Linked DNA regions of Homo sapiens. The protein of the gene in region 2 interacts with the protein of the main gene of each other region in a pairwise test. Each region holds a gene or a part of one and is shown on either strand. Other genes may lie near its edges.

Region 1 (5,201 bases), on a different chromosome or scaffold from region 2:
GAAAAGGGCAATTGGGTCCAATCCCCCTGGGAGCCTCTGGGAGACGACATAGAACAAGCCTCACAGTTCCTCTGCCTGTTGAAGGTCAACTCTTAAGTAAGACGGAATTTAGCTTGCAAGCTGTTTATGAAGGTGCATCTTTGGGGTCAACATCAGTAGAAAGGAAGTGATGTTTGTGGTGTCTTATTTACACCAAAGAAATTCTCTAATTCTAACACTAGCTTCCTGGAGTTAGCACCACATTCCACAAATTAAAGGGCTAGGTCCCAAAAGACTGACCCTGCTTCAGATGCCAGGTGCAAAGACAGTCTTTGCACTGTCTACCCACACTTCTGCCAGGCTGGCAAAAAATTGTGGCTTCCCATAAGTCCATCTCAAGTTCAGTAATTTCCTAGAATGATTTAGAGAACTCGGGAAAACATTTTGCTTATGTTGTTGCCGAACTAAATTGGGTCAGTTCCCTGGCTCACAGTGGAAAACCAAACACTGAAGCACTGGGGTTTTGTAGAGAGAAAAATTTATTGCAAGGCAGCCAAGCAAGGACACAGGAGTCTGGCCCAAATCTGTCTCTCCAAGTTGGAGGCTGGGGCAGATTTTATATACAGAGGGTAGTGAGGCATGATATGATTGGATCTTGTAATGAGGGGATTCAGGAGGCTTGATCTGACTGGATCACGCCAGGGCTCAATCTGATTGGATCAAGGATCATGCCACGTGGTGTCCACTTCTTAACTCAGTCCCTGTTCCTCGGTCTGAGCACTTAGGTTCCACGTGGATTTGCACGCTTCGTTCATCTGGACATGCCCAGGGTATGTAACTTGCAACCTGGGGGTCCACGACAACTGAAAAACAACTCGCCATTTTATTACACAAAGTTGAACCAGATTGGGCTGAATCTGCGGTTACAATGTTTACCAGTTTATTATAAAGGATACAACTAGAGGGGCGGGGCGGTGCCGGCAAGATGGCTGCGCCCGAAAAGGTGACATTTCCAGAGAAACCAAGCCACAAAAAGTACAGGGCCGCCCTGAAGAAGGAGAAACGAAAGAAACGCCAGCAGGAACTTGCTCCACTGAGGGACTCAGGACTCTCACAGAAAGAGGAGGACACTTTTATTGAAAAACAACAACTAGAAAAGCTATGGGGAAGAGAGAGGCAAAGATTACATGAGGAGTGGTTGCTGAGAGAGCAGAAGGCACAAGAAGAATTCAGAATAAAGAAGGAAAAGGAAGAGGTGGCTAGAAAACGGCAAGAACAAGAGCGAAAGTTAAAGGAACAATGGGAAGAACAGCAGAGGAAAGAGAGAGAGGAGGAGGAACAGAAACGACAGAAGAAACAAAAACCGGAAGCTGTCCAGAAGATGCTGGATCAGGCTGAAAATGAGTTGGAAAATGGCGCCACATGGCAAAACCCGGAACCCCCCCTTGGATTTCAGAGTCATGGAGAAGGATGGAGTTAATTGTCCCTTCTACAGTAAAACAGGAGCTTGCAGATTTGGAGATAGATGTTCACATGATTTCCCAACATCCAGTCCTACCCTTCTTATTAAAAGCATGTTTACAGTGTTTGGAAAGGAGCAGTGCAGGAGGGATGACTATGACTCCGAAGCAAGCCTGGAGTACAGCGAGGAAGAAACCTACCAACAGTTCCTAGATTTCTGTGAGGATGTGCTGCCCGAGTTCAAGAACGTGGGGAGAGACTGGGCGCGGTGGCTCAGGCCTGTAATCCCAGCACTTTGGGAGGACGCGGCGGGCGAATCACGAGGTCAAGAGATCGAGACCATCCTGGTCAACATGTTGAAACCCCGTCTCTACCAAAAATACAAGAATTAGCTGGGCGCAGTGGTGCACGCCCAGCTAATTTTTGTACTTTTAGTGGAGTCCCAGCTACTCGGGAGGCTGAGGCAGGAGAATCGCTTGAACCCGGGAGGCGGAAGTTGCAGTGAGCCTAGATCGCGCCACTGCACTCCAGCCTGGCGACAGAGCAAGACCCCATCTTTAAAAAAAAATAGTAATTAAAAAATAACGTGGGGAGAGTGATTCAGTTCAAGGTCAGTTGCAACTTGGAACCTCACCTGAGGGGCAAGTATATATGTTCAGTACCAGTCGGAAGAAGAATGCCAAGCAGCTCTTTCTCTGTTTAACGGACGATGGTATGTACGCAGGACGACAGCTTCAGTGTGAATTCTGCCCAGTGGCTCGGTGGAAAATGATGATTTGTGGTTTATTTGAAATACAACAATGTCCAAGAGGAAAACACTGCAACTTTCTTCAGGTGTTGAGAAATCCAATAGAGACCTCTGCTTGTCTCCTCCTTTGGCAAGAGCTCCAAGGGGAGAGAGAGGGTGGGCCACCACGATGAATACTACAGGCTGCGGGGAAGGAGAACCCTAGTCCAGACCATTCCTACAAAAGAAATGGGGAATCCGAAAGGAAAAGGAAGAAATCTCACTAGCACATGTCAAAGAGCCAGGAGAGGCACAATTCACCTAGCAGAGGAAGAAATAGTGACCGCAGCGGGGGCCGGTGCAGCCGCAGTGAGAACGGCCGGAGCCGTCACAGCCGGAGCCAAAGCTCCTCTAGATCCCAAAGTCGTGGTAGGAGGAGATCAGGTAGTAGAGACAGAACTGTTCAGAGTCCCAAATCCCAATAAACCTGTTTTATTCTTACAAAAAATAATAGGCCAGGCGCGGTGGCTCACACCTGTAATCCCAGCAATTTTGGGAGGCCGAGGCGGGCAGATCATCTGAGGTCGGGAGTTCAAGACCAGCCTGACCAACACGGAGAAACCCCATCTGTACTAAAAATACAAAAAATTAGCCGGGTCTGGTGGCGCCTGCCTGTAATTCCAGCTACTCGTGAGGCTGAGGCAGGAGAATCACTTGAACCCGGGAGGCAGAGGTTGCAGTGAGCCAAGATCGCGCCATGGCACTCCAGCCTGAGCGACAAGAGTGAAACTCCATCTCGAAAAATAGTAATAATAATAATAAAATAAAGAATACAACTTAGAAACAGCCAAATGGAAGCCATGTATAAGACAAAGGAAGATGTGGGGGTGGAAGGGGTTGCGTGGAGCCTCCATGCCCTCTCTGGGTGCCATTGGTTGACTGGGGGAATTAATTCCCTGGTGCTTCCAGCCTGCAAAATGAGCTCTTGCAACCAGTAAGTCCCCGATCAAAGGGGTGCAGGAGGTGGTAGGTGGAAGTTGAACAGATGGTAGGTTTGCATGTATAAGATAACGCCCCAGGGGACATAGCAGCTACACATGGCAACCCAAATATCCTAATCTCCAAAAGGAAGAGAGAGTGGATTCTTGGAACACAAGTCCACCCCCAAAGGCATCCCACACCAGCTCACTCATAAAGCTCCAAGGATGGGCCAGAAAAACAAGCTCTACACCAGGGGAAATTGGAGGCATGACAAGAAGGACAGAATGGGACCCAGCCTTCTAAAGGAGGAAGAATCTGACAAAGAACAGTCCCAGAGATTTTGTGAAGGTCGAAGGATGGAGAGAAGGAACTGTAGCTTAAAAGGGGGTGAAGTTCTGCTACGCAGGAGGGGGGTTTGGGGTGGCAGGGGCTGGAGAAAGAAACTGTTCTTCATCCCTGGAGCAGGAGGCTGCGGACTTTTTGCAGATCCAGAATTTGGCAAGATTACATTTGTCGTCGTTCCAGCCATTGCCACTAAATTCCGCGCAGTCTTCCTCCCCAACGTTGTTGGGCTCTCCTCTGTTCCAATACTGCTTGAAGCTGCAAAGCCCATGCGGAATGTGAGCCTCTGTCCCCGCCAGCTACATGAGCTGTGTTTCTACCTTCTGTCATCTTGATGCCTTAACATCTGCCCTGCGTGTGTATGCTGGACTTGAATCCCTCTGCATACCTGATAATATGCCTGACTCACGATGCCTTGAGTTCCTGCCTCTCTTCTCACAACCTGTCCTTGGGTGGACTCCACCTATTGAGTGTGTGATTTTCAAATACAAGCCAACCAGTCTGGAGTCCACACCTCCAGCGACCTGCCTTACTGGGCTCTTGTACTCCAAGCCACTATCCTGTACTAATCACCCCAAGGCCAGGTGTCAGACAGCGAGGGGCAGCCCCTGTGCCCCAGAGCCCAAAAAATGCTTCACACTTCCCAATCCTAAGCCTGTTCACCTGGCCTTGACCTTTCCTTTCCACAGAAACCATAATAAAGGCTCTGGCCCACAGTCCCCCCTCCCCACCACTCTGACTCATAACAGACCCTGGTGCTTCCCCAGGTGGCCCCCAGCTGTGATGTGTCCTCTCTCTAGGGATCTGTGTATATGAGAAGCTATTCACAATGGCAGGTGTCTCCTGAGCTGGTGGCCTTACTGGACCTCAGACTTCCTATTAATACATTATATTTTAATACACCTCCCCGGTGGCAGGCTCCTCCTGCAGCTCTGCTGGTGGAATTCTAGGCACCTGCCATGCTGTCTGGAAGTGGGTATGAAGACCACCTTCCTCAACTCAGTAAAACCTCCAGATTCTTGGGTCTAGGGTGTCAGGGAGTTGGGGAGGATCCCCAGGGAAAGTTCAAATCAGAGTTTCACAATTCCAGCCCCAGTGGATAGGGTGCCCCTTCTGAGATCTACCTGGGCAACAGAGGTGAGCCGTCCACCCATTGCCACGTGCCTTCCTGATTTAGATCTGAAAGTCCCATCCAGGTGAAGCGGTTACTTCTGGAAGACTGCAGCTGTAGGAAGTTCTGGAGGGTACAGGAGGAGTCAGGAGGGAGCTCTGCTTCCCATTTTCCAGGCTCTGTCTCCCCATCTCTTGGTAGGAAGTTCTGCTTGTAGGCTAACCTACAGCCTTCTGGTATACTAGGTCCTGAGCCCCCTCGTGTCTGAGTCCCTCTCACATGTGTATCCCACGGCACATGTGTCCTGACATGCACACATCCATGCACAGCTGGCCTCTCCTCACACCCTCTTGCTAATACTGCATGTTTATCCATTTCACATGTTCTGTGCATGTCCATGCACATTTACTCATAACTGGGCTTAATGTGTTGGAGCCAGAGGCAACCATTTCCTAACTGCTGGTCATGCACATCTCCTTTCAGCTCTGCACTGAGTGACATCACAACGACAGCTTGAAATCAGCCACCATGGGAATATTTACACCAGGGAAACTGGCAAACACGACCCATCAGGACTTCTTCCTCCAGAGAGCTGGTTGT
Region 2 (8,807 bases):
TCAAACTGTTAAGATCATGAAAGTCAAGGAAAGACTGAGGAACTGTTTCAGAATGGAGACTACGTGACATGGCAACTAAATGCAACACATAAATCTGAGGATTAGATAGCATAAATGCATCAGCATTAGTTTCCTAAGTTTAGTATTTGCATTGTAAAGACTTTGTAGGAAGTACACACTCACTGGTGTTGGGGTATAATGTTGGCAGCTTACTCTCAACTAGTTCAGAAAAAATTCCTTTGTACCATACCTGCAATTTTTCTGAGCTAGAAATTGTTGCAAAAAAAATAAAAACTTTAAAAAAAAAAGAGGATTTACTCATAAGCTAGATTTAGTTTCTCCCATCCCAAATTCTAGTTAACTAATGGAAGAAAACACCAACTCATAGGTACGAAATTTCAATTAATGCTTCCAAGGCTTAGAACAAGCTACTTTCTGGCCAAAAACTGCCACTTAGACTTTGGCACTACAGGCTTTTTTATGTTACACAATCAAGTAGGACCAGTGTAGAGACTTTTCTCACATAGGACCACATAAAACTTCATTCACATTTCTCTTAATTTGATAACCTTCTAATCTGCTTTGTGCTATGGTTATTTGTACACATGTACAAAAAATTGGTTGCTACACTCTAAATTCTATATTGAGGGTAGAAATGCATTCTGTTCATTTCCTTTACAACATTTAGGAAAAGCCATGTGCCACGTACTGTACTAGGGAGTAGAAAACAAAGACACTCTCTTCGATCTTAATTACCATCAAGTAAAGCCATGAAACCACATACAAGATACTAAATTGTTAAACGGGAGAAAATAGAGTGGGAGAATGCTTCTGTCTCTAAAAAGGGAAAAACAAAAATATCTCAAAACACAGTTCTTGAAAAGAACAGTCTCCTGGATCCTCACTGACAACTAGTTCAGAAAGACTTTTAGTATTTCTCTTTGTGCAATTTAAAAGGTTAAACTAATAAATCCTTATATCAAATAAAACTAAGCTATAAACAATGCTAGCAATTATAGCAAATAGGCAGATGTACTGTTCTTCAACAGCTAAGCCTGTGAGAAACACATGTTTTCAACTTGAGTAACCCTAACAGTAGCATCAGGCCTAGGAAGACGTCTGGACCTAGAAGTCTCCACATTCAGCCCCATCTGCCACAATCTCGAACTGCAGACTGATGAAGGCAGAGAGAGAAACTGACACAAACGCAAAGGCCTCAGAGTTTATAAAAATCTTAGTTTAAATACAGAAATAAAGAGAAAAAGCTTCTATATTAAATATCTCAATTTAAGTTCAGAATAAAGTCCCTACATATGCCATGATGCTTCACCCCATACTTCAGCCAACTCAGGATGGCTAAAGAATGTAAGTGGAATCAGAAAGAAAAACTGGAATTACCTATGTTAAAATAAGGTATATGACTATTTCTTGTTTTTGTTTGGGAGATAGTAGTGCCTGACAAATATTTTGCAAACCTTAAAGTGGAATTCTCTACATAGGCACAATCACTCCAGCACAAGTCAGGAGGACACTGTTCTTACACATGCTTTTAATTTGTTCTTCTGTGTCTCCTCTTCCTCACTAGTAAGAATGAAACAAAAACATTGTATCCACTTAATGTAAAGTGGAGCCAGCTCTTGGAGCCGGCTATTTTCTTCCTGTGATACTTGTCTACGTTACCTGGAATTTTAGAAAGAATTTATTAACTGCAGGTTCTTTCCTATAATTAGGATAAAAGCATACAAATATCTTAAGGCTTTTGGATCATCAAGCTGTTCAATAGAGAAAACGACTAAAACCTAGCCCTCAATTCCTAATCCTGACATTTCCCGGTTGAGGAGTTTGCAAAATAGACTTCTTACCAATATTCATAAAGTTACTATTAACATAGTAATATTAAATGGTCTCAGAATTTCACATATAAGTAAGTCTTCCAGTAGTTAGACAATTGGTGGGGAGCTAAAAATTGAAAAACTTCTTAGAGGAAAAAAATACAACATACAACGCTGACAGATTGTAACGAGTTTTTTCCTTAGAACCAGATTGTTGTTAAGAAATATTCTTTGAGCTATTTGGTAATCATGAGCTCATCTTCCCACACAAAAATATCACGCTGGGTGAAGTGGCTCACGCCTGTAATACCACCACTTTGGGAGGCGGGGGAGTCCCTTGAGGCCAGGAGTTCAAGACAAGCCTGGGCAACTTAATGGGACCCCCATCTCTACAAAAAAATTAAATTAGCCAAGTATGGTGGCTCGATCCCGCACTGCTAGCCACCTGGGAGACTGATGCAGGAGGATCGCTTGTGCCCAGGAATTGGAGGCTGCAGTGATCCCGCCACTGTATGCGGCCTGGACAATACAGCCAAACCCTGTCTCTAAAAGACAAAAGTCACTAAACACATAACGTTCACAGCAGCACCTCTTAGGAGTCGCAATGGTCTGCATAGTTGCTATTTATCCCTGTTTAGTGCAATTTGTATGTCATCTTTTCAGTTCCCCATTAGTAATAATTTTTTAAAAAGTCATCTTAGGGAAGACTTCCCTGTCACTTTTTCTCTTCGGTGCTCCTTCAACACATAAAATGCTAATTACTATTATATAGTAAATATCAAAACGAACTTTTCTATTTATTCGTCTAAATAGACAGTACTTATACTGTTTCCTAGCACCAGGCACAATGCCTTGTCAATTAACTCCTTGCACGTAGCGAAGTACTCTACAGTTAAAGACAACAAGATTATATCCTGGAAACATGCCAGGCCTTAAGAAATTATTTTTCTCAGACGTGTTTGGAGTGATAACACTGCCAAGTAACGGAGGTATAATAAGTGATTCTCAAGATAATTAATCCTACGCAGCTACAAACGCTGTAAGGTAAAAACAATCATTTTTACAGTTATCATTTTTATTCTTACTAGTTTTGTAACTTTTAACTTACTAGTGTTATATTATTATAACACGACGTAAAGGAATAGTGCGTAAAGGAACTGCTATGTACCAATGAGACCTGAGCAGGGCACACAAGACTGAAAGAAAAACAACCCCACGCAAAATCTAAGTCTTGCAGTTTTCACTCCTCGCGTCTCCAGTGTCCACGCATCCGCAGTCCTGTTTTTGTATTTCGCCCAAGATACACCCCTGGGCAACCTCAGGGTGCGAGGAACCCAGCTCTGCCTCCTGCTCCCCGCGGCTCCTGTACTACCCAAGGCTCGCGATCTTCCATGACCCCTCGAAGTTGCCTCCCTTTCCCGGGCAAAGAAGGGGCAGCGACCCCGCCTCGCCCGCCGGACCGAGCCAGGTCCAGCCTGGCTCCCCCCTGGGGCCGTGCTTCCCCCGCCCCCAACGGTCCTCAGGCCTGGGTCTCACCTCTCCACCCACTCCCTCAGGAAGCGCATTTCCTCGGTGTGCAGAACGCTCGGATCCTGCTTACACATTTTCACAAAGGCCCGAAGCTCGTTCACTTTGCGGGGGTCCATGGTAGGGAGGTGGTGGGCGAAACTGGGGGGGCTACGGCCCGGTTCCAGGCCCAGGCGCTGGCTCGGCGTGACCGCGCAGAAGGGGGCGGCTGCCGCAAGACAGAACAGACTAGAACCTCCCCGGCCGCTGGCTCCTCCCACCCAACGGTCTCGTGACCTCGGGTCCTCCGCCTGCTCATTCCTACTCCCTCTGCGCTGCTCCTGCGCGCTCCCTAGAATCTTCTAGAAGCGTGGCTGTTCGTGCTGTTGCCTGCCTCCCTGCGCATACATTCTCATATTCTTAACTAGGAACCAGCTCCCTGGATGGGGCAACCCCAGAAATGGGCGACTTCAAGGAGGCGGGAGATAACATCCCCTCCAGGGGGCGACGTCCAAGAGCATATTGTGTGGCTGCGTGCACTGAGTAGAGCTCAACGCCCGGGACCTAAAAAAAAAAAAAAAAAAGGGCGTGGAGCCGGAGGGTCGGTCCCAGCTCGGGGCATGACGTCACAACCTGCGCCGCCGCGCAAGGAAGGCCCGCGAGCCGCCTCCGCCGGAAGGGGAGGTGCGGCTGGCCCGGTTTCCTGGCGACGCGGCCCTGCAGGCGGTTGCGTTCCCCGTCGTTACCCTCTTTCTCTTCCCGACGCGTGAGTTAGGCCGTAATGCCTTGGCTGCTCTCAGCCCCCAAGCTGGTTCCCGCTGTAGCAAACGTCCGCGGCCTCTCAGGTTAGACTCTTCTCCCACGGTCTCCTCCCATGGTGTCCCCTGGAGGGACCCAAGTTGGTCTCAGGCGATCCCTGGTTCGGCTGACCCTTCTCCTGGTGGGGCCTCCGCTCCCCAACCCTCTGTGCTCCGCGGATTTCTTCTATACCGGCTGCTCCTGGAAAGGGGTGGGCCCAGTGTGTTCTCTACCGTTGAGGTATTTTGTGAAGCCGAAATGACTGCAGAGAGAAAAGTGTGCCATCCCCCAGAGGGGCTGTCTTCCAAGTTACTCGGACTCCGAAGTTGTGGCAATTATCACACTTAAGTGACAAAGTGTCTCACATCAAGTAGCTCTTGTTTCTGTTAGGCGTGAGAGCTTGCTCCAGAATATACACGAAGCATGTTTAGTAACAAATTCTTTCAGCAGCTCCTCTTAGGAGAGGTAACTGTTTCGAAATACTTCTGGGGCGTTCTGTGTCTGAAAGTCCTGTTTGCAAAGACAAGACGAAGGATAAGGAGAATAATTTTTTGTAGGGTGTCCTCTATTGCGAGCAATTAATCTGATGAACATAAAGCTTAATCAGTGAAAACTGAATCACCTTCCTTGCAGGCGGATCTGCCATTGGATCGTATTTCAGTTTTTTGGGTCAATATATGAACAATGTGTGAACCAGAACGTATGGTATTTGACATCAAAGCTATGTCTTGGCATATGTTTATGTTGATATACTTGAATTCATTTAAAATGGAATGTTAATTACATCGACTTCTTACTATAAAAAATAAAAAGTTATTGTCCAGTGCACAGAACTTGTTCTTCAGTTCTCATAGTAAAGCTGCAGAAAGACAACTCTCCGTGGGATTAGGTGAAAAGAAAGATGTGCAATTTTTCAGTCTTTTTTTGAGACAGGCTCTCATTCTGTTGCTCAGACTGGAGTGCAGTGGCAATCTCTGCTCATTTGCAACCTCTGCCTCCTGAGTTCAAGCAATTCTCGTGCCTCAGCCTCCCGAGGTAGCTGGGATTATAGGCGTGTGCCACCACGCCTGGCTAATTTTTGTAATTGTAGTAGAAACCAGGTTTTGCCACGTTGGCCAAGCTGATCTCGAACTCCTGGCCTCAAGCGATCCACCCTCCTCTCTGAGCCACCGCCCCAGGCCTGGAATTTGCTTTTATTTGAAAGGCTCTCCCCAGCCTGACTAAAGGAGCCATACTACCAGAAGGAACACTTGCAAAGGCACAGAACTCTAAAACGGAGTGGCCAGCACTAAGCGTTGCAATCGTTTAGTATGGCTGGAGAAGCTTTTTTTTTTTTTTTTTTTTTTTTGAGACAGAGTCTTGCTCTTGTCGCCCAGGCTGGAGTGCAGTGGCGCGATCTCTTGCCTTACTGCAACCTCCACCTCCCGAGTTCAAGCGATTCTCCTGTCTCAGCCTCCCGAGTAGCTGGGATTACAGGCGCCCGCCACCACGCCTGGCTAATTTATGTGTTTTTAGTAGAGATGGGGTTTCACCATCTTGGCCAGGCTGGTTTTGAACCCCTGACCTCGTGATCCACCCGCCTCGGCCTCCCAAAGTGCTGGGATTACAGGCGTGAGCCACCGCGCCCGGCTTAGGAAAAGATTTTTTGAAAGATGTTCTCAAACAAAATAGTAGGCATTACACGAAAATGATTCTGTGATCAAATACTTTTGGGGAATGCTGCCTTTCATAATGTACATAATAGTTTAATTCTTTTTTTGGAGATGGGGTCTTGCCATGTTGCCCAAAGTAAACTTGAACTCTCACCTCAGCTTCTCAAAGTGTTGCGATTATAAGTGTGAGCCACTGCACCCAGCCCTTAATAGTCTAGGTTTCTGAGAGATGTGTTCCGCAGTAATTTGCAAAATGTGTAAAAATGTATTTGACCATGGACCCCTTTTCTGTGATGAATCTTGAACTGGTATCCCTGGAACAGATTTTGGGAGAAGTTGGGCTAGAGCATAAGATGAGTACAAGGAGCTGATAGGAAATCAAGTTGGGAAAAAAGCTGGTGGCTGGCTCGTGGAGGGCCTTGTATATTATGTTAAGCAAACAATTAGCTTTTTCCTTTAGATGGTGGGAAAACTTTGAGGAATTTTAAGCTATTGAGTAAGATGATTAAATCTAAATTTTTGGTTTTCTGTTAAGAGTGAAGAAATGGACTACAGGGCATGTCATTACATTCTTAAATTTTCTGAGACACTGATTTTTGCTTTAGTTTTTGGAAAATTGCAATTTTTTTTTCAACTTTACTACCACATGCATGATAACAGATAAACTCTACTAAATATCACATCTTATATTAGAAGCATTTAAAATACCCTGGGCTTTTATTATTTTATTTTCTGAAAATAAACTTTGAATACTAATTGTCCGCAGTCTCTTCTATAGAATAAATAACCTTTCCTTCTCCCATCTGCCCACTAAAAATCAAATACCGATACAAAACACAAGCTCTTGACTATAGCTGTCTTTTAAAAATAGCAGATATTATAATTTTTTTCTAATTTCGCATTTGTATTTGGCCAAAGTTGAATAAGTTTTAGTGCTGCTAGATGTAACTCAAACCATTTGCTCGATATCTGATGTATTTGTAACCCATCTATTTTTCTCCCAACATGACTAAATTAAAATGGCTATAGGTGCTATTTTAGAGTAATGTATTTGTAGATTTTGTGTACAAACTCTAAACAAAAATAGAAAATTTCCTGTCTGGAGTGATTCACTGATGGCCTACCATACAGACTGCTCTGAGGAATTCAGGATAAGACTGGCCTTTAAAAAAAATGTGGTAAAATATACTACATAAAATTTACCATGTTACCCGTTTTTTAATTTTTTAAATTTTCTATAGTTTTTCTTTAGAGACAGGGTCACACTCTCAGCTGGAGTGCAATGGCAAGATCATAGCTCCCTACAACCTCAAACTCCTGGGCTCAAGCAATCCTCCCACCTCAGCCTCCTAAGTAGCTAGGCCTACAGGCACGTACCACCACACCCAGCTAAATTTTTAAAAAAGTTTTTTCATAGAGGACAGGTCTCATTATGTTACCCGGACTGTCGTGAAATTCTGACTTCAACCCTCCTGCCTGGGCCTCCCAAGATGCTAGGATTACAGGTGTGAGCCACTGCACCCAGCTAAGTCTATTTCTAACTTAAAATACTTTATACTTTAATTTTTAATTTGTAGTACCTTTAAGTTATAATGCATCAAATGCTGTTCCTCCATTGGAAAACAGCCATTTCATGAATAATTGTGTAGTCTGAACCTGTGTGTCTTGATACATTCTTGTCTTCTAATGCTATGCATGTTTCGTAAGTTTGTATAGTGGTTTTAATTAGAAAAAAGAAAAATAGGCTATAAACTCTACTAAAGAAAAATTCAAAAGTAAAAAACTCATTGCAGTTTTCCAAATTCCTTTTTTTTTTTTTTAAGACAGGGTCTTACTTTGTCACCCAAGCTGGAGTGCAGTGGCGTGATCCCATTACACTGCAACCTATGTCTTCCAGGCTCAAGCAGTCTTTCTACCAGCTTCCCGAGTAGCTGGGACTACAGGTGCACACCACCACACTTGGCTAATTTTTAAATTTTTTGTAGAGAAAAGATCTCACTATACTGCCCAGGCAAATTCTTATTAGCACCAACTGTCACCACAAACTCATCCTTTTCTGACATACCCATTCAAAAAAACTACTAACCAAATGTCCACAATCCTGCTAAAAGTGTTGAAAAGCTCTTAGTATAGTATTAAGTGTTATCTACAAAATTTGTGATTAACCAAAACACACACAATTGTGTTCAAATGTTATATATTTGAAGAGTCAATTTAACAATTCCTTTTGGTAGACTTCTTTTGCACCTCTTTACGCTTCTTTTTTTTCCTCTTACCACCCTCTTTGACTCCTGCTGAGAAAATAGGGGGATCTCTGTTGCTGGTAACCCAAGATATACCTCCCTCATCATTGTCCACGAAAGTATATTGAGATACATGTTTGGAGCTGTGAGAATTTGGTGAATAGTTGTTGAATGACTGTGTTCTCCAGCTGCATTCTTTTGCAAAGCCCTCTTCATTGGCCACACTATTTACAAGAAAAAATGTCAACTCTCCATTATCTTCAGCTTCTCTTTCTTGATCACTTTCAATAATTTTCTTTGTATTAATATTTCTGCCATTAACGATTTTGTCTGAAGTTGTAACAGATATGTAGTTGTCCATCCCACTATTATCAAAAGCCAGGGAAGAGAAAGAAGTAAGGCCTTCATGCCCCAATGAACCCTGTGATGTATATCCTGTATCATATGAAGAAAATTTCTCAAAAATTGGATATTCACTGGCAGTGGAGAAAAAGTATCCTGCATCTCTGTTTCTGTTTCCATAGGAGCTTCCTGGACGATTTAACAGGTCCTCAAGCGAGTCTTCAAAGAAGTGAAAAGAAAATGGATCCCTTTCATGAAAAATTTCTTTAAAAACATCATCTGGCTTATGGAATGTGAAGCCGTACTCACATTCATCATCAAAATGACTTCCACCTCCGTTTAATCCTTCTGTGCCATATTTATCATAAATGTCCCGTTTCTCATCATTTGATAATACCTCGTATGCCTCAGCTACTTCTTTGAATTTTCTCTCT

Evidence for each region. Proteins that work in one complex are often made in the same cells at the same time.
Region 1: the proteins of ST13 (region 2) and CD209 interact in binary tests that used the Homo sapiens proteins (3 or more experiments, as listed by UniProt).

The regions. Positions count from the first base shown.
Region 1 is NC_000019.10:7,739,493-7,744,693, forward strand, and holds the end of CD209 (CD209 antigen), read right to left. Parts: intron 4,728-5,201; coding exon 4,615-4,727; intron 3,749-4,614; coding exon 3,547-3,748; 3' UTR 501-3,546; downstream 1-500.
Region 2 is NC_000022.11:40,853,063-40,861,869, forward strand, and holds the start of ST13 (hsc70-interacting protein), read right to left. Parts: upstream 3,578-8,807; 5' UTR 3,479-3,577; coding exon 3,369-3,478; intron 1-3,368. Other genes in the region: XPNPEP3 (xaa-Pro aminopeptidase 3), read left to right, coding at 4,120-4,183; DNAJB7 (dnaJ homolog subfamily B member 7), read right to left, coding at 8,003-8,807. UniProt on the Homo sapiens protein: One HIP oligomer binds the ATPase domains of at least two HSC70 molecules dependent on activation of the HSC70 ATPase by HSP40. Stabilizes the ADP state of HSC70 that has a high affinity for substrate protein.